4 linked regions of the Homo sapiens genome follow. The protein of the gene in region 3 interacts with the protein of the main gene of each other region in a biochemical or structural test. Each region holds a gene or a part of one and is shown on either strand. Other genes may lie near its edges. The genes, in order: RXRA, DTL, TDG and THRA.

Region 1 (7,038 bases), on a different chromosome or scaffold from region 3:
TCCAGTTTTGCCGACGAGGAAACTCAGGCTCACAGTGATTAAATCATTTTCCGAATGTCACACGAGAACGTAGGAGGCAGGCAGAATCCGGAGCCAGGGATCCGCCTCTGGGGCCTCCAGTGCCTCCAAGCGAGACAGCCACTAGACCAGCGAGCCCTGGAGGGCTGGGCAGGGCCTTGTCCCCTGGTGCCTCCCGGAGCCCAGCACGGGGCAGGGCCAGCTGGGCACTTAGTTTGGACGAGCTCTGTCCCTCCAGGGGCTTCACTTTCGCCTTCTGCAGCGTGGGGGATCATGTGTGACCTTGGCCAGCCCCTGACCTCCCTGAGCCGCAGCCTCTGCATCTGGGACACCCAGGGTTTCCCATGCAGGGAGTGTCAAGTGTGGGTGCAAAGCCCAGGCACCGCACCCCTCTGCAGACGTCTGGGGCTTTCTCTTGCCCCTTCAGTTCCCTCCCTTCTCTGAGAAGCGCACCTGCTGCCTGTGGACATGAACACTGGGCATTTGGTGAGTCACACAGTGGCCACCCGCTTCTCCAGTGGGAGCTTCATGGCACCCCCACTGTGCTGAGTTGTCACGGGGGACCTCCTGGCCTCTCGCAGCCCACCTGAGTCCTGCAGGGACCAAGCATCCTTGTAAAGCCTCACAGCCCACCTGGGCAGATCGAGGAAGAACCTAGAAGCCAGAACAAGCTGGGGCTGGAAGACTCATTCCAGGCACCGAGGTCCATGTGAAAGGAGGCTTTGCGGTGGTTTCTGCTTTGCTTGCATTGAGCCTCAAACTCTTCCTGTCCCGTGAGAAGGGGGGATGGGATTTGGAGGCCTGAGGAAGGAAGGAGGGGAGCTTCCTGCGCACAAGCGGCGGCAGGGGTTTGCAGAAGTGGAGGCTGGGGGCTGCCTGGCCAAGCGCTTACCGCCCTGCGCAGCCAGGCTGGCTGGCAGGCTGCAGCGGGAAGCGCCTGTGGGTCCTCGGCGCTGACTGCAGAGCTGGGTGGAGGCAGCGGAACCAAAACTGCTGTGTCACTGCACGCTGCAGCTGTTGCCAGGGTGACCGGGTGAGTTTCCCACGCTTGCCCGGGCGGCAGCGTGCGGGCCGGCGGGTGGGGCGGAGGGGTGTGCAGAGAGGCCAGTGGTGTCGTGCCACCCGATGCCCGGGGGTGTCCACTCCCCTCTCCTGGGTCACGTGACCAGGGCCCCTGCCCTGCGGTGTTGTGGGGTGTATGTGTGGTTCTTGGGGGGGTCCCCAGCCCTCCTCCGTCCTGGGAACTGGGCTTCGGCGTCCTCATGTGTGGGTTGGGACCCCCCAGAGTGCCTGCCTCATGGAGTGTCCGGGGGCACCCAGCGGGGCTGGGCACTGCCAGGGGCTCAGTAATGAGAGGCAGCTCTCATTTAGGTGGGCAGCGGGCAGGGGGTTGCAAGCAGGGACCGCCCATGTGTTGGGGGGGGTGTTGAAGGTCCTTTTCCACAGAGGCCTGGGGTCTGCTGCGGGCGAGTCCTGAGGTTGCCACAGCCTCTGCTGGCCTTGCTGAGCAAGCACAGTGGCCCCGCTGCTCCGGAGCAGCGTGGCGGGTGGGGGGCACGGCCCTCTCTAGCCTCGGTGTCTGTGTGTGAAGTTGGGGGTACAGCTGCGCCATCCTTGCTGCAGGGCCGTGGGGGACATAGGGACAAACCTGGTGTACACCCCGCTGACTGCTGTGGTTGCCCCCCCCAGCTCAGCTCACCTATGAACCCCGTCAGCAGCAGCGAGGACATCAAGCCCCCCCTGGGCCTCAATGGCGTCCTCAAGGTCCCCGCCCACCCCTCAGGAAACATGGCTTCCTTCACCAAGCACATCTGCGCCATCTGCGGGGACCGCTCCTCAGGTACCGCTGCTGTGGGGGCCAGGGGCTGGTGGGACAGGGTTGTCAGGCCATTGCAGGGTCTGGAGGCCTCCCCAAATCACCCTCCTGTGGGCCAAGCAGGACCCAAGGCCAGGGTGCAGGGAGGCAGGTGCCTGGGCCATGCCCCACTCCCAGGGCTCCGCGAGGCCATTCCAGGGTTCTCACGTCTGTGGGACAGTGAGTGTTGGGTGGGGTGGGGCACAGGGCAGCCTGAGGCTTCCGGAGAGGAGGTGGCTGCTGATGGCAAGGTCAGCATGGGGGCAGCCAGTGCTGCGCCTCCTCCCTTGGCTGGGTCTGGGCAAGGGGCCCGTGTTGTGCCACTGACCCCCAACGGCCTGAGAGGGAAGAACGGGCTGCACAGTGCAGACACAGAGCAGGTGACTTGCCTGGGGCCCTGGTCCCTGGTGGGCTGGGATTTGTCCCTGCCCCACTCCTAAGCTGTCCTCGGAGGAGCAGAGAGAGTGAGGCTGGGGCCCAGTCTGAGCCCAGGCAGGGGTCTGGAGACCAGCAGGTCCCTTTCTGAGGCCTGGCCCGCCAGCTGGTAGTGGCGGCGTTGGATGGGGGGTGGGCTCCCTGCCGGGGCGGTGGGTGCTCCCCAGCCCTGCTCTGCCCTGTCCCGCAGGCAAGCACTATGGAGTGTACAGCTGCGAGGGGTGCAAGGGCTTCTTCAAGCGGACGGTGCGCAAGGACCTGACCTACACCTGCCGCGACAACAAGGACTGCCTGATTGACAAGCGGCAGCGGAACCGGTGCCAGTACTGCCGCTACCAGAAGTGCCTGGCCATGGGCATGAAGCGGGAAGGTAGGCCACGGCGTCGGGTGGGGGCGCGGGCAGGTGTTGGACAAACAGTGGGGCCCGGGCTTGTGCGTGGACACCCGAGATGGACAACAGGGAGTGAGTGGCCTGGACAGAAGCATGGCAAGGCCAAGGCAGGAGTGGGGGCGGGGCCCAGCGCGTGGGCACACGTGCGGCCCAGAGCGTGGGCACACATGGGTCCTGGGCGGCATGTTCTGGCTGGCGTTGGCTGTCCGGTGAGGGGATGGTCAAGGAGACCCTCAGGTGGCACTGCTTAGGTTGGAGAGGTGGAGCGGGGGCATCTTCTGAGCTGTTGGATGCCAGGGGTGGTCCCGGGCCAGCTTCCTCCCGAGGCCAACTCTGTGGCACCCCGCAGGGCCGCCGGATGGCCCCCAGGCTCTTGGAGCAGTTCCTCCTTTCCTTTTGTTTTTGTGCTCGTCTTATTAACAAATCTGTGTCGGGGCGGTTTGCAGGGAAGTCCCTCCCCCGATGTCACCAAAATTGTCAAGTCATCCAGCCAGACCTGGGTCGGAGTCCCGGGCCCCACAGGCACTGTGACTTCCCAGTCCTGGCTGGCTGTAGTCCTCAGTTTCCCCATCTGTCACATCCCCTTTCCCTCTCAGGTTTGGCGATTCCTGGCCTCTTAGTGGGTCCCTGGGTCATGGTTTGCACACACGTTTGGGGGTGTGCCTCAGTTCCTCCCATCGGGTCCCGTGCCCTGGGCCTTGTGGAGGTGGGAGGTGCTGTCTGGGGTGAAGATCTGTTGGTCTGTCCCTGTCCCCCCGCTCTGCAGGACACCCTTCCTCTGTCCTCTGCTGTGCTGCTCCTGAGGCCCAACACCTGTGTGGCTGGTGTGTCTTACTTCCTCCCCGCCAGCCCCTGGTGGGGTCCCCAAACAGGACCCACACCACTGTCTCACCGTCAGGGATGTCCTGAGTGGCCACCTTGGTGCTGCAGTTTCATTTCATCATCTCTCTTGTGTATGTCTTCTCAGCCTTAACGGTCCTGTTGAGAAATCAGAGCCTCTGCCAGGCGCCGTGCTCCTGGAGGGTGTCCTCCTTGGGCTGCGAGGCTGAGTGTGGTGTATGGGCTGGTGTGAGGTCCTTGTGCCTGCATAGCAGAGCTGCCTTCCAGAGCTGGTGTGGCCATGCCCAGTGCTGCCAGTCAGGCCTTTCTGATGGGGATTCGTGTTTCATGGAGTGCTGACGTTTGCTCAGGCCCACCCTGTGCTGTGCAGGTTGGGAAACCGAGGGCAGACGGTTCAAGCCTTGCGCAGGGTCACATGCTGGGCCCTGGCCCCCATCCAGACCTTGTTGCTTTCACCAGAGGGCAGAGGAGCATGTGCCCAGCCTGGAGAGGTGTGTGCCCAGCCTGGAGAGGTGTGTACCCAGCCTGGAGAGGTGTGGACCCAGTCTGGTTCTTCCGGGTGCCTGGTGTGGGCAGGGAGGCTTGCTGTGGTGGCAGGTGCAGCCTTGTCCCTGGAAGATGGAAACTGGGACAGGGGCAGGCATAGTAGGCAGTGGCCGGGGCCCCTGTGCCCAGGCGTGGAGACTGGCCTGTTCTGGGGTGGAGGCCCGAGGCGTGGCTGGAGCTGGGGGGGGAAGGCCTCGTGTGCAGCCTTAGCCTGGCAGTCTCTGTGAGGATGCCACAGCACAGAGAGCTTGGTTTAGCCGAGACCACTCTCAGATCCTGGGGGCTTCAGGGAGACCCCTGCGAGCTTGGGGGCAGATGAGAGCGCTGTGCATGGCTGATGCCTGGCCTGGGCCTGCAGCAGTAAGCTCGCTGTCCTTTGAAAGTGATCATCAGATAACCAGGGGGGGCCCAGGGGGCAGCCAGTGCAGGCTTAGGGGAAGCTCAGGCACTGTGGGAGCCCAGAGGAGGCACCTGACCCTGCCTCGGGCACCCGGTGAGACGCAGGCAGGCAGGAGGGCTGTTGACGCCTGAGGAATGAAAAGGTGTCGGCACCACAGGCCTGGCTGCAGGGAGCAGTGTCCGTGAAGTCTGAGGCTGTCATCACACCTGGCCCTCGGAAGTCGGTGATGGCCTTTCTGAGCCCCGTCCCGGACCCTCCAGGCTGCACTGACTCCTTCCTAAGGCCCTGCAGCCCAGTCATCCATGTGCCTGGGATCATCAGACTCCAGCTGCCTGGGCCCCCCAAAGCCTGGGGACGACACCCCATCCCATCCCAGTGGAACCGTGCAGTGTTGGGGCTGGGGGGACCTGGAATCACCTGGTCAGACCGCTCCCCTGGTGCCCATCGGTGACTGGGTCCTGTTAGGAGCAGCTCATGTGGGGGACCACCCTGGACACCCCCTTCCTGATCCCCACACATGGTCTCACTCGCCCCATACCTGTGAGACAGAGAAATGGGGTATAGAGAGGTGAGCCGTGGGGAGGTCTAAGGGCCAGCACCAGGCGTGGCCCCCATTTCTTGCCGGTCCTTCCTGCTTCCAGTCCTTCCTCTTGGCAGCGCATAAGCCCTGGAGACCAGACTTAGGGCCGTGAGAGAAACTGCTGCTGCTGTCAAGGGACCTCCTCCCCTTTGCCTCCAGCAGGATTCTGAGGCGTGAACTTGCAGTCAGAATGCTGCCGAGCGCTCTCGCCCCAAACACAGCTGCAGAACTCAGCCTCGGTGTGGAGGGCACCTCTGCGTGGGCGGTGAGGAGGCAGTGAGGCCCCCGTGCCAAACGTGCCCTGCTGCCAGTGCCTCTCCTTGTGCACAGGGGGAGTCTCTTGCCTCCCCCAGCCTGGCTGTGTGGGCTGCACAGCCAGGCCTGTGGAGCTCCTTACTCTTGGGCAGTAACGGGGCCCCTGGTGCAGCCCAGGCACTCGCCCTGCAGGGACCCCACGTGGAAACGGTGGCTGGGAGGGCTTGGCAGGCACCCTCCTCCCCGGCCTGCGTCTGGGTGCTGGGCAAGACCCCTTGGCTCCAGATGGGTCCTGAAGTGCAGAGCACTCCCCTCTCTCCTCTTGGGCAAACCACTGCAAGGCAGGCTCCCCGACAGCGGAGGGCAGGGCTGTTGGCTGCATGGGTGAGGCATTGCAGCAGCCCTGGAGAAAGCTATGGGGCCAAGTTGGCCAACACTAGGTGCCTGTGGCCCAGAGCATGCAGGATGGGAGCTGTCGGCTCTGGGGACTGAGCCCTCCTAAGTGTCAGGCCCCCTGGTGGGCAGCTCCGCCCACTGGCCTTGGTGTCAAGTGGTCCCTCGGCCCGGTTTGTGATCAGACCCCTAGAAACAGGCTGGAGCTGAGGCGTCGCATCCCAGTGCAGTGCTGCGAGGGAGTCGCCTGGGGTTGGTCCCAGGGCTGGCTGAAGGCAGGATGGCCCAGGTGCCCCCATGCGGTGACTCTGCCCCCGGCAAAGGCCCACTCTGGCTCTGGGGCAGATGGGTTCCCACCCCTATGCGGTAGGATACCACAGGCTGATAGCATCTCAGGTTGGGCAATGGGGCCTGCACGCGCAGGCAGCCACCAGGAGGGACTCGTTCCGCAGCATTCCCGGGACCAGGGGTGGGCAGAGGTGGGGGGACGTGCAGTGGTGGGTGTTGGCCCTCTGCCAAGCTGAGCCTGGGCCTGTTTGCTGAAGCCGGGGAGGGGGCAGGGGTTGGGGGTCCCGCAGGGACACGTGCTCTGATGGGGAAGACAGGCCTCACCCTTGGGGGTTCCCAGTCCGATGGAAAAGACCTAGCTTCCACCCAGGGTCGTCGGGGGAGACATTGGTCTAGAGGGGGCAGTGGCTGTCCCCCATTCTGCTTCCTCCTCCTCCCTCAGGAAGGCTGCTTCCCATTTCCTTCCTGCCTGCCTTTGCTTCCTGTGCCCACCCTCCAGCTCTGAAGGACTGGGTGTGGAAACAGCAGGGTCTGGCGTGTGTGCACCTATGTGTGCACGTGTGTGCATGTGCGTGCACTGCAGGGATGTGGCTGACCCACAGGTCTCTGCTGTGGGAAGGGAGCCCCGGCTGGGCTCGAGTGTGGCCCTCTTGCCTTCTGGCCTGTGAACTGGGCAAGTGACCTTGCCTCGCCCAGTCCTCAGGTTCCTCATCTGTGATGGGCTGGGGGCATCAGGAAGACCCCTGCGAGCTTGGGGGTGGATGAGAGTGCTGTGCGTGGCTGGTGGTGGGGTTGGAGAGCAGTGGTCACGTGTGGGTGTGGGTGTGGTATGTCTGTGTGGTGTATGGGTGTGCGTGTGGTGTGTGTGTGATATGTCTGTGGTGTGGTATGTGTGGTGTGGTATGTCTCTGTGTGTCTGTGTGTGTATGTCTGCATGGTTTGTGTGCACGTGTGTGTGCATGGTTCTCGTGTTCTGATGCCTTGCTCTAGGTTGAAGCCCTGGAGGGAAGGTAAGTCACTCCCTTTAGAGACTCTAG
Region 2 (7,038 bases), on a different chromosome or scaffold from region 3:
TAGCACCTTGTTCCCTTGATGGTAAAGATTATGATGCCCAAGATAGAATCTTCTTCTTTTCTTGTGCTATCAGGATTTCCAGCAAAGTGTTACTGTGGTCCTCTTTCAAGACGAGAATACCTTAGTCTCAGCAGGAGCTGTGGATGGGTAAGAGTCTATTTCTTTTTTCTTCCGACGAGATCTTTTTTATGAGATTGTGATGAGGCAGTCACATAGTCTCATTATAATTGAATGTGTGTGCTTTCAACTGTCAACATAGCAAGTACCCCAACTGAGGAAAGGAGCTATAGATCACATTGGAAAATACCTAGTTGAAGGACTCTTGCTGGATAATTAAATGAAAGAATACATGTGTCACGCTTAGCACATTGTCTAGCACATAAGAGCAGTGGTAGCTGCTGTTGCTATCTTAGAAAAGAAGCTGGCTGGGTAGCTTGCTTGCCTTATGCAATATAATTTAGTCACTAATTCTCATTTTGAAGAGTAAAATTTCTGTTACTTTGGGTTTTGTCTTTTTCAGGTTTAAGAATATCCTAAAAGAAGAAATCTGATTCTGGGGATGTAATTGACATTTCTGGGAGTAATCTAACTAGATTGATGATAGTAAGGTCTAATGACTTTCACATACCTGTCATCCATGATTAGTCTGAATTCTTGGCTTCCAAATAAGTCTGCTCTGTGATGCTTGTTGATTGTGTTGTAGAATATTAATTCTATGCAAATGGAGACTCTTTCTTTTTAAGTTTCCTTCCTATTATATCTCTCAAGGCATCCTTCTCTTAAAATTTTTAATTTAAAAGATGATGGCTTACCAAACTAGGATTTCCATTGTGTCCTCTGGGCACTAAAACCCTCTGAACCAAATTCTCAGGCAGGAATGAAGGATTATCTAAAGGTTATTAGTTCTGCTTGTGAATGACTGTGAAAGCTTGCTCTGTTTGTTTCCAAGAATACTGTCATTTCATAGCAGGTCTGTGTTTTCAAGTTACCTTTATACTAGAAGTAGAGGATTAAGACAATTATCTCAATAGATGAAATGAAAAAATACTTTATTTCACAGAACAATTTGTTTAGATTATTTAAAGAGTTATGTATGGAGATATAACCACAGGGACAGAACTTGCTACTTATGATATCAAAAATATATGCAGAATATTAAAGGCTTAGGAAGTGTATTTTCTAAAAACAATGGAACAATTACTATCGGCACTCAACCTTCATCTTCCTTTTCCGTTCTCTTAGAGTAAACTCCAGTAACCCATCACTGGGTCAAATCACATCTGTTTCCGTTCTGTCAGAATTATAAGCCTGATATTGGAGACAACAGTATAAGATACTTTAATTTGTTTCCCAATGAAATATCCTTACTGTACCTAGTTAATGTGCCAGAGGAGTTAGATTAAAAGTCATTTCACATTTAGTGTAGTTGAAGTTGTTTGGGGTTGGAAGAAGGTCTACAAAATATTTATTTGCCTTGGTTTTTAGGATAATCAAAGTATGGGATTTACGTAAGAATTATACTGCTTATCGACAAGAACCCATAGCATCCAAGTCTTTCCTGTACCCAGGTAGCAGCACTCGAAAACTTGGTAAGCCTTTAATAGGTCTTTTGGGGGAGATAAGAGTTTTTGTTTAAAAAAAAAAAAAAAGGCTAATTTCCAGTAACATTGATATGAAAAATTCTAATATGTGAAGTTCAAAAGATAAAAACTCAGAAGAATGTTTTTGGTTTGTGTATATTTTGGGGACAAAGAATTCTGATGATGATTCTTATGAAATGATCTATTTTTGTCTCTACATTTTAACCTCAGATCTACTCACCATCATCAGGACGTGCTAACTTAAGTTTCCTTTTTCCAGGATATTCAAGTCTGATTTTGGATTCCACTGGCTCTACTTTATTTGCTAATTGCACAGACGATAACATCTACATGTTTAATATGACTGGGTTGAAGACTTCTCCAGGTAAGATATTAGTCATTCAAATTCTCTTACCAGGAAAGCATTATGGGCTTTTTTTGGTAATGATAATTTAATGGGCTTTCTTCTAAACTGAACTTATTAAGCCATATGAGGACTTTGGCATCTTTGATTACATCCAGTGATAATTTCATAAGTGTACATTCCTTGTGATGATTTCATAAGTTAGCTGAATTGTGCTTTACATGGTGACTTTATTTTAATAGAGAGTATCTCCTGAAATTATGCCCTTTGGCCTATATTTAGAATTCTCTCAATTTTTTATTTAATAAGCTGTGGAGTAGATAAAGTGCTTCTGCTCAGCTTTTTTCCTCTTTAGGGGCTGCTGGTTAAAATTAGGGGGCTGAAATTTTCATACCCCCAAAATAGTTTCAGCCTATCTCAGCCTTCTCCTTAATGTTAGAGGCCCTTTTATTTCTAGATGTTTTCCCCAGCCTCACCTTTTTTTTTTCCTCAAAACTTTAAAAATAGAATCTGATACTTAAAACTAATAAATAAATGATAGTTTTAAAAAGAAAACCCAAGTTTCTCAAGCATGCTTTCCTCTTTTTTTTAATCCTCTCCCCTCCCTCTTCCAAATCACCAGCCTCAGGCATGCTTTAAGAGAGTTATTTGGGTTACATTATTTTTAAGAACATCAATTTCTTAAGCAACATCTTAGTAGCCTGGTTATTCCTCATCTATAGATCTTTCAAAAACACTTTGAATTCCATAACCAATCCTCAGAGTTACCCAGTTTCCACTAAAGTAAAAAGTGCTGATAAACAAGAAATCTCAAGTACAGAACTTGTTTTATTTTATTTATAGATAGATGTAGATATAGATATAAATTTTTTTTTTTTTTTGAGACGGAGTTTCACTCTGTTGCCCAGGCTGGAGTGCAGTGGTTCGATCTCGGCTCACTGCACCCTCCGCCTCCTGGGTTCAAGCAATTCTCCTGCCTCAGCCTCCCAAGTAGCTGGGATTACAGGCGCCCGCCACCATGCCTGGCTAATTTTTGTATTTTTAGTAAAGGCAGGGTTTCACCTTGTTGGTCAGGCTGGTCTCGAACTCCTGACCTCATGATCCACCCACCTCAGCCTCCCAAAGTGCTGGGATTACAGGCGTGAGCCACCATGCCCGGCCCAGAACTTGTCATTTTAGCTGAGATCTTACAGAATTTTCCAAAGATCACCCCAAGCAATCTTATTAGGACTTTAGTATCGGTGGCAGCATCATAGTCTGCATTTCTGATACTTTGCACTGGGTCTAGTTTTCTCTAAACAGGAGCAATAGTATTTAGAAAAGGGAAGAGGTGTTTCTTTTGCTATTTTCCTTAATGGAATCTGAGCTTGGAGAGCTGCTAATTTAGTTAGTCAAATAAAATAGACTTTTCAACATCTTTCCTTGAAAGATAAAGCGTGATCCTGATTATATTATCAGATGTACAAGAGCTCTTTCTATATAATTTTTGCTACAGTGTGGCACTGAAAAGGTCCTTGAGTTTAGTGTCCTGCTGTCCAACACTTCGCTAATAATTTAGTAAACCTTTTCTATGCTTCTATTTAATTTCATTTGCGCAGATGGATAGATAGGTAGATAGGTTAATAGATCGATTTATTCCTTAAAAATTGAATGACAGCTGGCCATGGTGGCTCACACCTATAAACCCAAGCCGAGGCTGGCAGATCACTTGAGCCCAGGAGTTCGAGACCAGCCTGGGCAACATGGTGAAACCTCATCTTGACAAAAAGATGCAAAAAATTAGCTGGATGTGGTGGCATGCACCTGTAGTCCTGCTACTTGGAAGGCTGAGGTAGGAGGATTGTTTGAGCCTGGGAGGTTTGAGTCTTCAGTGAGCCATGATCTTGCCACTGCACTCCAGCCTGGGTGACAGAGTAAGACCCTGTCTCAAAAAAAAAAAACTGAATGACAACTGTGTGTGTGTGTGTGTGTAACGTCTTGTAATTACTTGTCCTTTTCAAAACTTCTGAATCGATCTTGGATTCGATACTTGATCTACCATGCTTTGTATTATGGTGTTTATATGTTCATAAGGATGACTTGGTTGGAAGTACTTGAAAAGCCCAGATCACCAAAGCAAGATTAAATTGAGCTCATTAAAGCCAACATACATTTTAGGAGGATTTTTAGCAAGGTTTAAACATTTACAGTGCATATCATACCAGCCTTTCTTAGACCAGCAGAGGGCAATAAATACTTACAGGTGTAGTGGGAAATTCAGGCTAGAGTTTTCCATTCATAGTTGAGAGTTGAGGAAGATTAAAAATTACAGTTTTAGAACAATGTTCAGAATAAAGGAGCTTGTTTATTTTGCAGTGATAATAGGTGTATACAAATTGATTCATATCCTGCCTCACTTTCACAGTAAAAATGTCTGATGTGAGGAGTATTTGCTATGCCTGCATAGCTTTTTCCTTTAAAGCTATAAATACAAAGTTCTTTTCCAGCTTTATTCTAGAAAATGGAAGAGATTCCTGTGAGCACTTATGGGAAGCTGTTAAGTCCCCTACTAATACTTTTCTCTCTGGAGTGTGATTGTTTTTTCCTGCCTAAAGGTATCCTTAAATTCTCCAATAATTGAGATTTTTCTCTTGTATTTCCTAGTAGTGTTCTGATGTCAGAGGCCTCAGGTTTTGACCTTCTTAGGATAGAAGAACCTGTTAAGAACATATGCTAGATTGGGTTACCTGCCCTTTTGCCATTGAGAGTGAGAAGGCTAAACCTAATCTAGTGCCTTACATATAAACAGTTTACTCCACTAGCTCTTCCACCATTCAGTCTACTCAAAGTGCTGGATTAAAATGATTCTCACATCCCACATAAGCTATTAGTAAGTTTTAACCAGAACTCAAATGATACTTTTCACTGATTTTTTTTTTCCTTTTCATGGAACAAATGTTTGAGGATCTACTCTGTTCAAAGCACTATAAAGTCTAGTGAGGAAAAAGTAAGATATAAAATTTATCCTCAAGAGGCCTGAAGTCTAAGGGGAAATTAGATGAATATATTATGCAGTGGAAAAAATCCTACCCTGGGCTGGAGAGAGAGGGTCTTATAAAGGCATTTTACTGCAAGTTGGACATTGGCTGGATTCTTTTTTTAAGGAATGTTTTCCCTCCAATTTTTTTCTCTTGATATTGCCATTTTCGTACCAAGTACTCAGACTGAGTTCATGAGATTGGATCTAATATAAAGCTTCCTTCTAGGGTTTTGTTTTTCTGCCAATGTCTAGTTCCCTTGTATTTGATGGATAAAGCTAGATCATCTGCTTCAATAGGCAATACAGTGATAAAACTTGTTAGAATATATATGCTGTCTATATCCATTTGACCACTAGAAATAACAAGAGCCAAGTAATTTGGTTTTTTTCCTCTGGCAGTGGCTATTTTCAATGGACACCAGAACTCTACCTTTTATGTAAAATCCAGCCTTAGTCCAGATGACCAGTTTTTAGTCAGTGGCTCAAGTGATGAAGCTGCCTACATATGGAAGGTAAGTTGCTAAACTTCACCCACAAGTGTTAGACTGAAGTATTCTTGCAAATATTTGTTCTGTCCAATATGAGATAAGTTTAATGTAACCACGTGCTATACTATTCCTGCATCAGATATTTAGTAAAGGTTGCTCTTGGCTCTTAATATAGCTGAAACCTTACTCTACTACAGAATGTATGACACTTTCAGGGCCATAGCTTGTCAGAAATTGACAATTTGTATCCTCTGTTTCAAAAATTATTAGGAAATTGAGAATTCAGAGGGTGATAAGAACCTTAACTACTTTGTCCTGCATCCTGGAAAACATGCTATACTGACTTTCTGCCCTATGTTTTCAAACTCTCGTTCAGAATACAGTATTTTGATCCCTAGGATCCTGTGCTTGAATCACCCATGGAGCCTTGCACAAAACAGAAACTCAAAAATATTTTTATGATTAATTTATTCTTTATTCTCTCCTTACAAGTAGCTGATCTTCAGGCCACTAAAGTAGATATGGCTGCTTTATCAGATTTTTATATATTTAATAGCATTATTTACTAATCTTTTTTTTTTTTTTTTTTATTGAGATGGAGTCTCACTCTGTCGCACAGGCTGGAGTGCAGTGGCACGATCTTGGCTCACTGCAAGCTCCGCCTCCCAGGTTCACGCCATTCTCCTGCCTCAGCCTCCCGAATAACTGGGACTACAGGTGCCTGCCACCACGCCCGGCTAATTTCTTTTGTATTTTTAGTAGAGACGGGGTTTCACCATGTTAGCCAGGATGGTCTCGATCTCCTGACCTCGTGATCCGCCCAACTTGGCCTCCCAAAGTGCTGGGATTACAGGCATGAGCCACCATGCCTGGCCAATAATCTTTTAAATAACTTTTTTAATAACAGTAGTTCTAAAGTGTCTACTGTAAGCTAAGAAATTTAAAGCTGTCCATTTGAAGTCCAGTGGAGAAAATAAAAATGTTAGACAACAGGTAGCACTTGCTTATTACTGAAAAATGTCTCTTGAAGGAATAATTAATTATGGAAATGTTCTGGGAATTCAGAGAATGATCATTAAGGCATTGTTTACCCATGACTAAGAATTAATTATCTTCTAGATTTCCCTGTAACTTCATAAATGTCTTTGACATTGGTGAATTGAATGATTAGAGTTCACATATTTTGGGTTTTAAAGTCATAATGTCTAAAACTTCATAGATCCCATAGTTCCGATAGTATCAAATCCCTTCTCAAGAGAAAGTTATATCATTTTTTATCCTGCCAAGCTCTAGAAAGTAATATTGCTAATTTTTTTTAGGACAGGGGTAAAACCTGTTTAGTATGAAGCATAATTCTTCAGCTTAATTTCTTCCAATCCTGAGGGAAGTACAAAAGAAAAGTGATTTCTATATAACTGGAGTTGTGAAAATGCAACACTACTTTATTAAAATTTTACTAACAATATCCTAAATAGTCACAGGGTGGAAATATTGCTCTATCCAAGATGCTTCTATGTTGGGCCTGCCTTTTTCTACAAGCATATTTCTTTCTTTTGTTATATTTTTAAATGCCTATAAAGTATATAC
Region 3 (7,917 bases):
AAAAAAAAGGAAAGTTAACTGTAAAACAGCCTCGGCCGGATCCTTCACAAGGTACTCCAGAAAGCATTGTTATCATAGGAGATGACGACTCCCTGTGGGTTATTGCCCTTGAAGACCTTCCAGGATGTGGAGGTGGAAGACAGTGATACTGACGATCTTGACCCTGTGTAGGCCTAGGCTAATGTGTGTGTTTGTGTCTTAAGTTTTTCACAAAATTTTTAAAAGTAAAAAAAAAAAATTAAAAACAGAAAAAAGGCTTATAGAATAAGGATATAAGAAATTGTTTATAGCTGTACAATGTGTGTTTTAAGCTAAGTGTTATTACAAAAAGGTCAAAAGTTTAAAAAATTAAAAAGTCTATAAAGTTACAGAAAGCTAAGGTTAATATATTATTGAACAAAGAAAATTACTTTTTAATAAACTTAGTGTAGCCTAGGTGTACAGTGTTTATAAAGTCTACAGTAGCGTACAGCAATGTCCTAGACCTTCGCACTCACTGACTCACCCAGAGCAACAAGGAGTTCTGCAAACTCCATTCATGGTAAGTGCCTGCTACATTTTTTATCTTTAATACTGTTTGGTTTTGTTGTTGTTGTTGTTGTTGTTGTTGTTGTTGTTTTGAGACAGAGTCTCGCTCTGTTGCCCAGGCTAGAGTGCAGTGGCTCAATCTCGGCTCATTGCAACCTCTGCTTGCCAGGTTCAAGCGATTTTCCTGCCTCAGCCTCCCGAGTAGCTGGGACTACAGGTGCCCGCCACTACGCCCAGCTAAGTTTTCTTTGTATTTTAGTAAAGATAGGGTTTCACCATGTTGCCCAGGGTGTTCTTGAACTCCTGAGCTCAGGTGATCCACATGCCTCGGCCTCCCAAAGTGCTGGGATTACAGGCGTGAGCCACCGTGCTGGGCCTAATACTGTATTTTTACTGTACCTTTCCTATGTTTAGATACATACTTACCATTGTGTTACAATTGCCTACAGTATTCACTATAGTAACATGCTGAACAGGTTTGTAGCCTAGGAACCACAGGCCATACAATATAGCCTAGGTATACAGTAGGCTGTACCATCTAGATTTGTGGAAGTACACTCTGTAACATTGTCACAATGAAAAAATCACCTAGTGACATTTCTCAGAATATGACAAATGACCATATTTTCTTGTGCTTCTATTTTCTTTGGTGATGTATCTGTTCAAATCTTTTGCTCATTTATAAAACTGAGTTGTTTTCTTATGGGTTTTGAGTGTTCTTTTATATGTTCTGGACACAAGTCCTTTATCAGATATGATCTGCAAATATTTTCTCCCAGTTTATTGCTTTTCATTAATTTTTTAAGAGAAGTTTTTAATTTTAATAAAGTATAATTTATCAATTTTTCCTTTTGTATTATATTTAAAAAATATAACCCAGGGTCATAAATATTGTCTTCTATATTTTCTTCTAGAAATTTTACAGCTTTGGGTTTTACATTTAAGTCCATGATCCATTTTGTTTTTTTATATGGTGTGAGGCAGGAGGTGCGACTTGACTCCCAAGGTGGAGCTTGGACACAGGACCAGATTGAGGACCAGCTAAAACAGGGAAGAGGTGGAAGCTCTTCTCCATAAAACACACCAACTAATGTGCCCTGTCAGTTTAGCTTTGCCATGGCAACACCCAGATGCTACCACTCCTTTCCATGGTAATGACCCACTGACCCAAAAGTTACCTCCCTTTTTCTAGAAATTTCTGCACACTCAGCCCCTTGATTTGCATATAATTAGAAGTGGGTATAAATATGACTGCAGAACTGCGTCTGAGCTGCTACTCTGAGCACACTGCCTATGGGGCAGCCTTGCTCTGCAGGAGCAGTCTTGGAGTTGTAACACTGCTGCCTGAATAAAACTGTTTTCAGCTCACTCTTGATTTATTTCCTGGGTGAAGCCAAGAACACTCCTGGGCTAAGGGCTTGCCTGCCCTGTGTCATGCATACAACTTTGTTTTGTTTTTGCATATAGATATCTGAACTACCTTTGAAGCTTAGTTGAAAATCAGTTCATCACTTGTCCATGTATGTGTCTATTTCTGGACTCTATTCTGTTGCACTGATATATATTTCTCTCTCTTGATGCTAATACTACACTTTTTTTTTTTTTTTTTGAGACAGGGAATCATTCTGTTGCCCAGGCTAGAATGCAGTGGCATGATCTCAGCTCACTGCAACCTCCACCTCCTGGGTTCAAGCGATTCTCCCATCCCAGCCTCCTGAGTAGCTGGGACTACAGGCATGTGCCACCACATCTGGCTAATTTTTGTAGTTTTTTAGCAGAGACGGGGTTTCACCATGCTGGCCAGGCCGTTCTCGAACTTCTGGCCTTGGGTGATCTGCCCGCCTCGGCCTCCCAAAGTGCTGGGGTTACAGGCATGAGCCACTGCGCCCGGCTAACACTGTCTTGATTACTGTAGCCTTATAATAATTCTTAAGTCAGGCAGTATTAGCTCTCCCAGCTTTGGCTATTCTAGATCTTTGCATTTCCATATAAATTTTAGAATCATTTTGTCAATTTCTACCCAAAAACGCTTACCTGGATTTTGGTTAGCATTATATTGAATCTTTAAACATCTTCACAATATTTGGTCTTCTGATCCATGAATACAACATATCCGTGTACTTATTTAGTTCTTACCCAATTTCTACCAGCAATGCTTTTCACTTTTTATGATAGAAATCTTGCGTCTTTTGTCAGCTCTATCCTTAAATATTTCATATTTTTGATGCTATTGTGAATGGTATTTTTTCTAATTGTTTGTTGTTAGTACATAAATTACAATTGATCTTCCTATATTGATATTTTATCTTGCAACCTTGCGAATCTCACCTATTAGCTGTACTAGGTTTTTTGTAGGTTCCACAGGATTTTCTACATAAACCAGCACCAGAGCAATGAACAAAGACAAATTGTTTTTTTTTTTATAGATGTCATTTATCAATCTTCAGGAAGTTTACAAGGAAGTTCCCAGTTCTGTTTCCAGATTGCTAAAAGCTCTGGTGGGCCAGGTTCACAAGCAGAAAAAGTTTGTCTTCCAGACTCAGATGCAGGATGTTGAGAGAGAGACACTGATGGGATAAAAGCCAGTTTGCTGCAACTGCTTCACCATTTTTAGGTTCAGTGTCCTCACCGACAACTCCTCCCATAAGCTTTTTTTTTTTTTTTTTTTTTTTTTTTTTTTTTTTTTTTGAGACGGAGTCTCACTCTGTAGCCCAGGCTGGAGGGCAGTGGTTCGATCTCAGCTCACTGCAACCTCTGCCTCCCTGGTTCAAGCGATTCTCCCACCTCAGCCTCCCGAGTAGCTGGGACTACAGGTGACAGAGATGGGGTTTCGACATGTTGGCCAGGTGGGTCTCCAACTCCTGACCTCAGGTGATCCACCCGCCTCGGCCTCCCAAAGTGCTGGGATTACAGGCATGAGCCACCACGCCCGGCCTCCTCACGTTAACTTTCTTTTGCCATGCAAGATTGGGCAGAGGACCCTGGTCTCTTGAGGTTATGAATGGAGCTGGCAGGACCCAGCACAGCAACCCACAGTGAGAGAAGCCCTTGCTGCCAAGGGTAATTCCCCGAGTGCAGACATCCTGAGAAAAGTTTACTCTCTTCACACACATTTTCAGTCACCAGAATTCTCTCCCAAAGCATTCAGCAGTCTTTGGTTAATGTGTCTTTCTGGATGCCCTGAAATAACTGAGGCAAGCCACCTGCTGTAAGACTTTTCTAGACGATGGTCCTGAGCCATTGGCAAAATCAGAGAGGATGGGCTTTTTTCATTCACTCAACATATATTCATTGAATATTTACCATGTGCCAGGTTCTGAGTAGTGTCTACTAATGGACAGGGTATTCATAAAAGTTCTGTACTGTTTTAAACGTTTCACTCAAACTTTAAACAGTTGATATATTACAAAAATCTTTCTGTATTTACTCACGAAAGCCTGGATCCTAGAATGAAGAAAATACATGGAGCACAGAGCCACAGCCATCTCCCAGCTCACAGATCACGTGAGTGAGAAATAAACTTCTGTGGCTGTAAACCACTGAAGGTTTGGAGTTACCTGTTACTATATGAATAAACTCAGGAAAGCCAACAAATACAGCAGCCATGTTTTTCATCATCCTGCAAACTAGAAAAACCCAAAAGCCTATTCCATTAAGAGTTCCTTAATAAAGTACAAACACCAGTGACAGAAATTGAGAACTAATGAAACAAAAGCCAGCTGCAAGAACCACTGAGACATAAAAGAGGGGTTAGTCTGTAAGATTACGAACCACTGAGATTTAAAAGAGGGGTTAGTCTGTAAGGTTATGGGAGGTGATGCTCGAATGGGATCTAGTCTCGTAGACGTCAAACGTTAATATTCTCATATATCCAAAGTAATGCGGAGAGTGGTTTATGTAGAGCTTTACATTTTACATAGCAGCTTTACATTCACCCTCATTTCACAGATAAGGAAACTGAGGCCCAAGATGGCACAGTGGCCTCGACGCCCAGGTTTTCCACTTTCAAAGACCCTCCCTCACATCTCATTACCTGATAATGCAACACAGTCTTTAATCGGGGCGAATTTCGGGGTGGAAAGGACTAGATAATGCTGATAAGCGTCATCATCCCATATACACAGCACCCCAAGGACAGCACCCTATCGCCCACGCGTCCACCAGCCCCCGAAAATACTGGAGACAAAAGCTGACGTCGGCAGAGCGCTCCTAGTCCCCGTCTTCTGGTCCTCCACCCTTCCCGAAAGGCCAAGCGGCGGAGCTGGGGCGCCAACGAGAAGGGGGTGAGCGTGATTGGGCTGTCCTACATCACGTGACGGCCAGTACGCGTGGGATTTGGCTCCGAGGAGGCGGAAGTGCAGCACAGAAAGGGGGTCCGTGGGGGACGGTAGAAGCCTGGAGGAGGAGCTTGAGTCCAGCCACTGTCTGGGTACTGCCAGCCATCGGGCCCAGGTCTCTGGGGTTGTCTTACCGCAGTGAGTACCACGCGGTACTACAGAGACCGGCTGCCCGTGTGCCCGGCAGGTGGAGCCGCCCGCATCAGCGGCCTCGGGGAATGGAAGCGGAGAACGCGGGCAGGTAATACCGGGGCCAGCGCCGCCCCTCCCTTGCGCCCCTCACTGCTGGGCAGGCTGGCTGGCGCGCGCGCGCGCACGCAGGGGTCTTTTAAATCCCGGCCGGAATACAAAGGCCGGGGCCGCGCGTGCGCACTGTGGCCTGGTCGGCCTTTCCTTCCCTGGCTGCGGCGGTGGTGGTGGAGGTCGGGGCTGCTCTGAGGGTTACCTGGTGCACCTGGACCCTTCTTTGGTTCCCCGCGATAACCAGTTGACTATAAAATATATTAGTAAGCATTCAGCAGTCTTTGGTTAATGTGTCTTTCTGGATGCCATTCTTGGCTAGAAGGGTTTTCCGTCACCCTCCATTACCACGCAGAGAGCTGTAAAGATGAGTGTCGAACATTTCCAGCTCCAGGAGTTTTCATTTTAAAGTTGGTTGATTTGTTGCGGCTTCCCCCCACCCCAAAGGCCTACTGAAAGCAACTTTAAGGGTCACGGGTTAGATAATTTTGTTGTGGGCATATGTATACACTCTCGAGTAGTCAATCTAAAAATGACCTTTGAGTTTTCCAGTGGCCTTGGGGACGATCTTAAGAATCCGTTTTTAAAAAGTCCTTTGGGGGAGTCAAGAGAAAAATTTGCAAAAGCAGGAGATTTAGGGACTTGAACTCCTGGCGGAAGACTAAATTTTTAAAAAATGGATATGGTGACAGTTTTTTAAAAGATAAAGAGTGATGATTTACATTGAAATTAAAAGGAAAAAAACCTATGCCTAATGAAGAATTATCCTGACTCTCAGTGGCTAATGGGAGCTGAATTTAGGCAATACAAGGGACTTATATGGGCCTGTTCATGTCTGTAAAGTTGGCATGTCTGGAATCTGATTCTGACATGCCGAGAATTGGTGTTACATGAAAGGGCACACTAACCAAAATAAATTAGAGCTTAGGAAAAGAGATATATGTAGACAAAGTGTGGACTTTATCTTGACTTTGTGGATCAAGTCCTGGAATAAATTACTCCACTTCTTTCCCAGAAGAACTTTACAAATAAGAGAATTCACCAGAATTTGTGGAAATCTCTCTCTCATAACCTCACTTAAGAGCAGAATTGAAACTTGGGCCAAGAATAAATTACACATTGTAAGACTTTATTCAGGGTCTTACAGCAAAATAGTAGGACTTCAATACACTGTTTAGCTCAAAGCTGTGATATGTCGGCCTGACTTCATCCAAAAGGCTATAGACCAGATTTTATTTTGCCTTGAAAAGCTTTCACCTTCAGGAACTGTGGAAAATTCTGTGTAATCTTCTGAAATGACTCAGACCCCAGGTAATCCTTAAGAGAGTAGTTCTCTGTCACCCTTGACTGTGCTAATCAAGAAATGTAATGTGGGATGTGAAAAAAAATAAATTTACTTTTTTTTTTTTTTTTTTTGAGACAGAGCCTTGCTCTGTTGCCCAGGCTGGAGTGCAGTGGCGGATCTTGGCTCACTGCAACCTCCATCACCCGGGTTCAAGCGATTCTCCCGCTGCAGCCTCCCAAGTAGCTGGGATTACAGGCACCTGCCACCAGGCCTGGCTAATTTTTGTATTTTTAGTAGAGACAGGGTTTCACCATGTTGGCCAGGCTGGTCTTGAACTCTTGCCCTCAAGTGATCCACCTGCCTCGGCCTCCCAAAGTGCTAGGATTACAAATGTGAGCCACCGGGCCCAGCCGACTTTTTTAGAAGACTAATTTCAGATATTCAAAGAAGAAAATTCAAATTCCATGAATACAGACTTTTTTTTTTGTTTTTTTTTTTTTTTGAGACAGAGTTTCACTCTGTTGCCCAAGATGGAGTACAGTGGTGCGATCACCGTTCACTGCAACCTCTGCTTCCCGAGTTTAAGCGATTCTCATGCCTCAGCCTCCCAAGCATCTGGGACTACAGGTACCCAACACCACGCCCAGCTAATTTTTTGTATATTTAGCAGAGACGAGGTTTCACCATTTTGGCCAGGCGGGTCTTGAACTCCTGGCTTCAAGTGATCACTTTGGCCTCCCAAAGTGCTGGGATTACAAGCATGAGCCAAAGCGCCCAGCCTAGACTTTATTTCAATGGCAAAATAGTTCAGGAGTCTTAGAAAGTGCTTACAGTCAATCAACCAGAGAGGAATAAAGGAGGAATTTTCTAAGGGTACTGGGGAGTTTCCCGTGACCTCAGGCGTGAAAAAGACATTTACCGAAGATGGAAAATAGGATGCCAAATCAAAAGTAACTGGAAGAGAGTAGCATGGACCACTAAGAATACCAACAGGAAAGATTAACCCTTGCATGAGAGTAGACTTTATAGAAATGTTAAGGAGACCAGGAAGGACTGTTTTGGTTAGATGTTGACAACAAGAAGAATAAAAAAGATTTGGGTTTTCTCCCCAGTCTACTGGCATGGTGGCAGCAGACAACAGAACACCTAAGTACTTTGTTCTGATTTGGATTTTACATCTCCTATGTTAGCAAAATGATTGTCTGACTGGAAATGGCAGAATGAATATCTGTAAGACTTAAAGCTCAAGACCAGTGAAGGCATTTAGGAGAAGTTTCAGGTGTTCTAACAGAATCATATGCCTTGGCCTGCGTGTGTTGTGTTTCAAGGGAGAGGCCAGATTAAAGCAGTGTTAGAGGATTTGTAGCAAATGTAAGGGACCTGGAAATAAACACGTGGGTTCCTGTTCTTCCAGAGGTGGAGTCTGTCCTCTGTTGACATTGATCCTGAACAAAATTTTTACTTAATCAATGGTTACTGAGCATTTTTAAAAGAAACTAATTGACCGGGCACAGTGGCTGACGCCTG
Region 4 (7,038 bases), on a different chromosome or scaffold from region 3:
GCCCGTTCTACCTCTGATACCCACCCCAGACCAGGACTGGGCACTGGGGGCTGGACAGGAGACTGGGGTGGGGGGGCATGAGCAGGGAGCCTTAGCCCAGGGAGCCATCAAGAAAGTAGGTCAAGTTTTTCTTGGCTTGTGGAGAAATTCCTGTTATAAATTTATAATGGCGTAGCCAGCCCTAAGGGGTGGAGGTTGGGGAGGAGAAGGAGTGGGTGGGGAAGCCCAGGGGCTGGGCACTGGGGCCTAATGCTCTCAGCCAGACAGTGAGGGGCAGGGGGCGAGGGCCGCTACGGGGGTTGGGCTGGACAATAGAGGACGATCTTCTGACTCCACGTCCAGCGAGGCTGCCTGCATGTCTGTCTGTCTGTCTGTGTCTGAATGTCTCTCTCTCCGGGTCTGGGTGTCTCCGTCTGCCCCCCAGGCTGTGCCTCGGTGCTTGGCACACCCTGGCTGTGGTGCTGCCCCCGCCTGTCTCCTGCCCGCCTGGCACACTGCCACCACTTGTTTACAGAAGCTGGAAAAATCCACTCGCCAGCCGGAGGCCCAAGCGCCCCCAGGGAGGGGAGGAGGCAAGCACAGGAGTGGGCATGCTGAGAGAGGGGCAGCCCCGGGGAGCAGGTCCTGGGGGCAGCCGAGGAGGACCAGTGTGTGCAGGAATGAGCACTGGCTGCTGTGGGCCGGGCCAGGCGGGGAACACCAGTGGCAGCCACATGGCATGGGCAGCTCCTGCCCCAGGCCAGGGCTCCTGAGGGTCCCCTCCCCCAGGCCCCTGCCACTTACCAGTTGCTACATTGCAGACCTGGAGCAGTGCCAACCTAAGCCACCATGTTTATTTCCCCATCCCTCTCTCCTGCCCAGCCTTAACTCCAAATGTGTCTGGGTACTGCCAAGGGCCTGCACGTGCCCACTGGGGGGAGGGGCAGACTCGCTCTCTGCCCCACCCCTCTTTTGAACTGAATGGTGCCCTGGTGCTGGGCAGTGCAGCCCAGCTACAGTCAGCCCCTGGTAGTGGGCAGAGGAGCAAGGTGCTGCCCTTGCTGCCTAGGGCACCCTCACTGGGTACCCAGAAAGAGGCTGGAACCCCTGGGGACTCCTTGGCATCTCTCCAGGGACACACTTGGGCCTTTGGGGTGATACAGAGGCGAGGCAGAGGGCCCAGCATGTGGGGAGACACATACCACATGAGCCTGTGTTAGCCACGGACAGAAAAAGGTCAGCGGGTAAGGGGCATGGGGCAGGGGTACCCACCCTGAAGGGCAGCCTCTCACCCCTCCTCCAGAGTCCAGCTTAACTCCCCAAACTCCTTCCTGGTACCTCCTCTGCAGAGGCGAGGGAGGCCCTGCCCCAAGGAGGCCGAGGGGGCGGAGCTATGGGGTTCTGTGCCCAGGCTGGACAGCAGGACAGCAAGACCCACCTGTCGGCTGGCCTGGCCACCCACTCCCTCCTTGTGAGATAAGAGCTGCTGGGAGGCAGTGTAGGCAAAGTGCCCGTGGAGGGGGAAGCATTTCATTAAGCTTAAGTACTTCTGCCATGGGGGGACAGGGACACGGGGCCAATGCGGCATCCACGGGCGCCCCGCCAGGTTCCCACTGCCGAGCCGTCCCACTCTGCAGTCCTGTATATCTGAGGACACCCCCAAAGGACTCCTGGGGCTGCCAGAGGGGAGTTTCTGTCCCCAGGATCTAACCCCCAATACTACCCGCATTAACCCTCCTGCGTATCTGCTCTGGGCTTTGGCCCCACCTTTCTGGGGCCCCTGAACTTTGTCCTTAGTGCTCTGAAGAAAGCCCAGCCCTCCTTGCCAGCCACAGGGACACGTACATGCGGGGCGGCTGAGAAAAGGGTGGAAAGATGGGAGGAGGGGTAAAAAGGCTGGTGGGGGAAAGAGGGAAGAAGGGAGGAGGGGGAAGAACAAAGAAATGGGACAGGGCTGGGGTAGAGCTAGGGGTGACAAGGCAGTAGAGGGAGAGGAAGAAAGGGGAGCCAGAGATGGGGGATGGGGAGAAGGGGTGAGGTAGAAAGGAGGACAGATAAAGGGAGGAGAGACACATGAAGGAGGGGAGACAAAGAGAGAAAGGTAACAAAGAAAGATGGGTGGGGGGCTTCGTACCCTGTCTAAGTCCCACCCCATGCAGGCTGGGGGGAGGGGGGCGTAGGAATGGTTTCCACGGTGACAGCTGGTTCTTGGTGGCCTGGCATGTGGGCTATTAATAGTTCTGTGGGTAGGTTCACACCTCCCTCTCCCCTTCCCCTCTGCCTGCTGCTAGGGTGGGGGGAGATCCCTCCCCCACCACCCACTCCTGATCACCCAGCCTCCCACCATGGGAGCCAGGAAGGGCGATGCTGAGGGGCCGGGGCGGCCACCGTGGCCCAGACACATAAATGGGCATGCATGGGCACAGGCGTCTATGGGCAGCACTGCCCCCCATGCCAACACGGGCACCACAGGCAGCCACCCACACCAAGGGCCCCTGGGAGTCTGTGGTGGTGGCAGTGCTGCAGCAGCGACATGTGCCCCCATGCTGAGGGGCAGAGGCCTCTCTAGGACCGGGACTCCCTGTCCTTTCCCATACCCCCTGTTCTATTCTCAGGTATGGATTGAGCAGGGCTGCCCCACCCAACTCTCTGTTATCCTAGTGCCAGGAAGGAGAGGAGGAGTGAAGGCGGGAAGGAAGGTACTATTTGGCAGGTGTGATGTGGCAGAGGAGTACACACAGACTCAGGGCCCCAGCCTGGCAGGCATGGGGGAGACGGGAGGAGGGGAGGCGGCACCCCTTGGTGAGCTCTCACTGGGCCCCCAGGAGACAGGTTCTGGAGCTGGGGGGCAGTGACTCATCACCTAGCCACTGTGGGACCTTAGAGGCTAGAGAATGGGAGATGGGGTGGGGATCCTCATAAGGGGGAGATTGGTTACTTAAACAAAGGATCCTCCCCACCCCGCCCCAAAAGAATATAACAGGAAACCCCCCCTGCAGGTCAGAGACAGAAAGACATAAACAGCAGCCTTGACTTGGGCCAGATGCCCAGTATTAACATCAAAGACTGCTTCCCACTCGGCTCCCCCATAGCCTCACCCACCTGCTGCTCTCCTCTCCCTCCTCCTGCCCGGGCCAGCTCCAGCCAGGCATCAAGGTGGGTGCCCAGGTCTGGAGGTCTCCTCCCAGGTCACATCCATCCCCCATGACCACTGGTGGGTGGTCATGCCCACACCCATGCTGGAGAACTCAGCCCCTCCTTATCAGCCCACAGAACTTCACGCCCCCCCTGCCCAATTCCCCTCAGGAATGGAGGCAGGAGATCCAAGTAGCCAAGAAAGCAGAAGCAGGAGCACCCCCAAGCTGGGCACGGCACATTCTCCCCACCCTCCCCCAGCAGCCAGCGGGTAATTGGAGCTGGGAGCTGGGGCAGCTGAATGCTGGAGGCATGAATGTCACGGGGCCAAGGCACTTGCTGCAGATGGCACCATGGGCACAAGGCTTGGGGTCCTCCCTCCTCACTCCCTCATCTAAGGCAGTAGAAGAAGTTGCCTGCAAGCCCTGAAGAGCATGGCCTAGGAGGGGAGGGAATGGTGGAGGGGGAAAGAAAGGGAGGGATGTTCTCCCAGGCACCCCAGAGGCTGGAGCTAGCCCCTAACCAAGCAGAACTGGCAGAGGCAGAGAGAGAGAGACAGAGACAGAGACAGAGAGACAGGGACAGAAAGGGAGGAGGGAGGGAATAGGAAGGAGGGAGGAAGGGGGAGGGAAGAGAGAAAGATTGAGAGTGTGTGTGTGAGAGAGAGAGAGGGAGGGAGAGAAGGAGGGAGAGACAGAGAGGGGGAGGGGGAGAGAGAGAGGGAGAGGGAAGAGGAAGGGAGGGAGGGAGAGAGAGAGGGAGGGAGAGAGGGAGGGAGAGAGCGCGCGCGTGAATGCAGCTGAGTCTCCGGCACACACACGGACACGTGCAGACACACACACTCACCCCGCATGCGCAGAGCCACAGGGCTCTGGGTACCGTTCCAGGAGATATTCAGAGCCCTCCCCAGCCCACACATGCACAAAAACACTCTCACATGGATGCGTGCACAACACACCCACTCACTGATGTGTACAAAAATGCCGAAAGACACCAAAGCCTCGGTTCCCCTGTTTCCCCACCCCCATGCCTGGTAAAAGAGAAAAAGAAACAGGCAGCTGGGGCTCTGGGAGCCAAGAGCCGATCTCTTCTTTAGAAGAGGAAAAGAGGAGGAGGAGGAGGTGGGCCAGGGGCTTGGTCCAATCATTCTGCTCTTGGCCACTGCTGAGGGGCATGGCTGAGGCTTTGGTATCAACCTTTAATGCCCACCCCCAAAACAGCGAAGCAAGGATAGTATTTCCTGGGCACCAGTAACACCCATCTTGCTTCCCTTGTCTACCCAGCAAACTTCTGACCCTCCCTCTGGACCACCTCACGCAATGGCATACCGGAGGGAGGTCCCTATGACCCCAGCTTTGGCCTGCCAAGTGACACCAAGGTGGAACCACATGTGCCCCCACCACACACCAGCCCCAGATACTTCAGTGAGAGACTGAGAACTGTCTCTGGTTCCAGGCAGCATGTGTATGCCCCACCCTGGCATGTGCCAGGCCCTGGGAAAAAAGGAGAATCCACAGGCATTGCTCACCATGCCAGGATGCAACATGGATTGAACACAGGGGTCATCCCACCTTGTGTTATTTGCCCTCAACCTGAGTGAGACAGGAACCATTGTCTCTAGATAATGAAAACCCAGGCCCAAAGTCATACGACTAGTGAATGTCAACAGCCAGGCCTCCCAACTCCCAGCCAGTGATCTTCCCACCACGGTCATGCTTGCCTCCCTCCCCAAGAGACACAACAGTTCTCCAAAGTCCCCTAGACACCTTTGCAGCCATGAGAACTAGAGTTGGGTTTTTTGTTTTGTTTTCTGTCTGTTTTGAGAGGATGTGTGTGTGGGGGGTCTCACTCTGTTGTTCAGGCTAGAGTGCAGTGGCACAATCACAGCTCACCGCAGCCTCGACCTTCCAGGCTTAAGCGATCCTCCGGCCTCAGCCTCCCAAGTAGCTGGTAACACAGGCATGCGCCACCACACCTGGCTAACTTTTTAAAGTTGTTTTTAGAGATGGGGTCTCACTATGTTGACCAGGCTGATCATGAACTACTGGCCTCAAGTGATCCTCCCGCCTTGGCCTCCCAAAATATTGAGATTACAGGCATGAGCCACTGTGCCCAGCCGAGAACTAGAGTTGAGATTGGTTCCCACTCCAAAGGCTTCCCGTCACCCCTACAGGGTATCCTCCCATTGTCCTTCCTTCACCTTGAGGGGCAGGGCTAAATAAAAGGGGTTTGGAGAGGGGATCCTGATCACCAGACTCACAAAGGCAAAGAGGCAACCCAGGACAGATGCTGGATCTCAAAGTGCTGTGCCCACCACACTGGTCATTACTCAGTGCTTCAGTTTCTCTCTGCCACCACCTTTCACACTAAGTACCACTCCATGGAGGGCAGGGGAATCTGGTGCCTATCAGCCAGAGCTGGGTCCTGGTTGACCAATGCTGGGCTCCCAGGAGGGAGGAAGGGCACTGCCTCCTCTTTGAGCCCACACATAAGAGAGGGGACGGCTTTCCTTGTTCTCTCTCTCCCACCCCCAGAGCTCAGACCCTGAACAGAGATGCAGTGATGCCCAAAGATTTATGCAGGTGCCCCTAGCTGGTGGGGTGTGTCCCAGGCTGAGGGGCCAAGGGCTCCTTGTAAGCTGAAGGGCGAGGGTCAAAGGAGGGTGGGGCAGAGGGGCCTGCCTTGGGCTCTTTCCCATACACTCATTCCAGGCTGCAAAAATTTGTCTGGGAGGAAAAGATTACATGACGGTGAGAAGGCTGGAAATTGGAGACCCACTGCCCCAGGCCCCAGTCTCACTGATGTCTAGGAGACCCAATTCTCCACGAAGCTTCTCTAAGAAATCTGGGAGACCCCAGGCCCACAGCTTCCTTCACCCATCACAACCGCTCACATATACAGTTTGTTATGAACTAGGCACTTTTAAAAACATTTTTCCTCAAAAAAGCTAAATGAGGTAGATATGATCATCCCCAATTTACAGATGAGGCAACGGGGAAGTTAAATCGCTTGCTCAAAGTCACACATCCAGCAAGTGACAGAGCTGGGATTCAGACCTAGGCAGTCCAGGTCAATCATGGCCGTCATGATCATCACCATCATCTCTGTTCTTAGCTGTGATGGTATATCACCTGCTTGATAGATAATGCCTTGTTCTTTTTTGTTTTTCTTTTTTTTTTTTTTTTTTTTTGAGACGGAGTCTCGCTCTGTCACCCAGTCTGTAGTGCAGTGGTACAATCTCAGCTCACTGCAACCTCCACCTCCTGGGTTCAAGCGATTCTCCTGCCTCAGCCTCCTGAGTAGCTGGGATTACAGGACCCCGCCACCACACCCAGCTAAGTTTTGTATTTTTAGTAGAGATGGGGTTTCACCATCTTGGTCAGACTGGTCTTGAACTCCTGACCTCAGGTGATCTGCCTGCCTCCGCCTCCCAGTGTGCTAGGATTACGGGTGTGAGCCACTGTGCCCGGCCCAATGCCTTGTTCTTTCATCCAGCTATGTGTTCCCTGAGACCAAGCCTCAGTCTTTCCCCTCTGTAGCTGCCCTGTGGGTTCTCTGCCAAGTGCCTCCACCTCCAAATAGTCCAAGGCTAGAGGGGAGCATAGCGAGAAGTGCTTGGTGCCCCCGGGCTCGATGTCTCCTGCCTGAGTTCCCCCTCCTCAAATTCCCTCTCCAGAAGAGGTACCCCTTCTAGGCTGGAACCTGCACTCACGGGTGGGAGGGCCTCGCTTAGTACATACTTAGTCTAGGCAGCTGTGCCCTCAGAACCAGGCCCTGAGGCTGGGCAAAAAGGACACAGCTGTTGGGCATCTCTGAGGTGGGCCTCAGCTGCCAGGGGTGTGGAGAAAGGCCATTGTGAGCCCTGCAGTGGACCCAACTCAGCAGGGTCCTGCCAGCTCCCGCCACTGCCCATGGGGGCGGTTC

The links.
Region 1: the proteins of TDG (region 3) and RXRA form a complex in vitro, tested with the Homo sapiens proteins (one study listed by BioGRID).
Region 2: of the proteins of TDG (region 3) and DTL, one has a biochemical effect on the other in vitro, tested with the Homo sapiens proteins (one study listed by BioGRID).
Region 4: the proteins of TDG (region 3) and THRA form a complex in vitro, tested with the Homo sapiens proteins (one study listed by BioGRID).

What each region holds. Positions count from the first base shown.
Region 1 is NC_000009.12:134,406,442-134,413,479, forward strand, and holds part of RXRA (retinoic acid receptor RXR-alpha), read left to right. Parts: intron 1-118; exon of another isoform or gene 119-1,051; intron 1,052-1,707; coding exon 1,708-1,858; intron 1,859-2,498; coding exon 2,499-2,678; intron 2,679-7,038. UniProt on the Homo sapiens protein: Receptor for retinoic acid that acts as a transcription factor.
Region 2 is NC_000001.11:212,066,739-212,073,776, forward strand, and holds part of DTL (denticleless protein homolog), read left to right. Parts: intron 1-72; exon of another isoform or gene 73-73; coding exon 74-147; intron 148-1,485; coding exon 1,486-1,589; intron 1,590-1,860; coding exon 1,861-1,965; intron 1,966-5,362; coding exon 5,363-5,475; intron 5,476-7,038. UniProt on the Homo sapiens protein: Substrate-specific adapter of a DCX (DDB1-CUL4-X-box) E3 ubiquitin-protein ligase complex required for cell cycle control, DNA damage response and translesion DNA synthesis.
Region 3 is NC_000012.12:103,960,955-103,968,871, forward strand, and holds the start of TDG (G/T mismatch-specific thymine DNA glycosylase), read left to right. Parts: upstream 1-4,917; 5' UTR 4,918-5,083; coding exon 5,084-5,106; intron 5,107-7,917. UniProt on the Homo sapiens protein: DNA glycosylase that plays a key role in active DNA demethylation: specifically recognizes and binds 5-formylcytosine (5fC) and 5-carboxylcytosine (5caC) in the context of CpG sites and mediates their excision through base-excision repair (BER) to install an unmethylated cytosine.
Region 4 is NC_000017.11:40,065,930-40,072,967, reverse strand, and holds part of THRA (thyroid hormone receptor alpha), read right to left. Parts: intron 380-7,038; exon of another isoform or gene 1-379.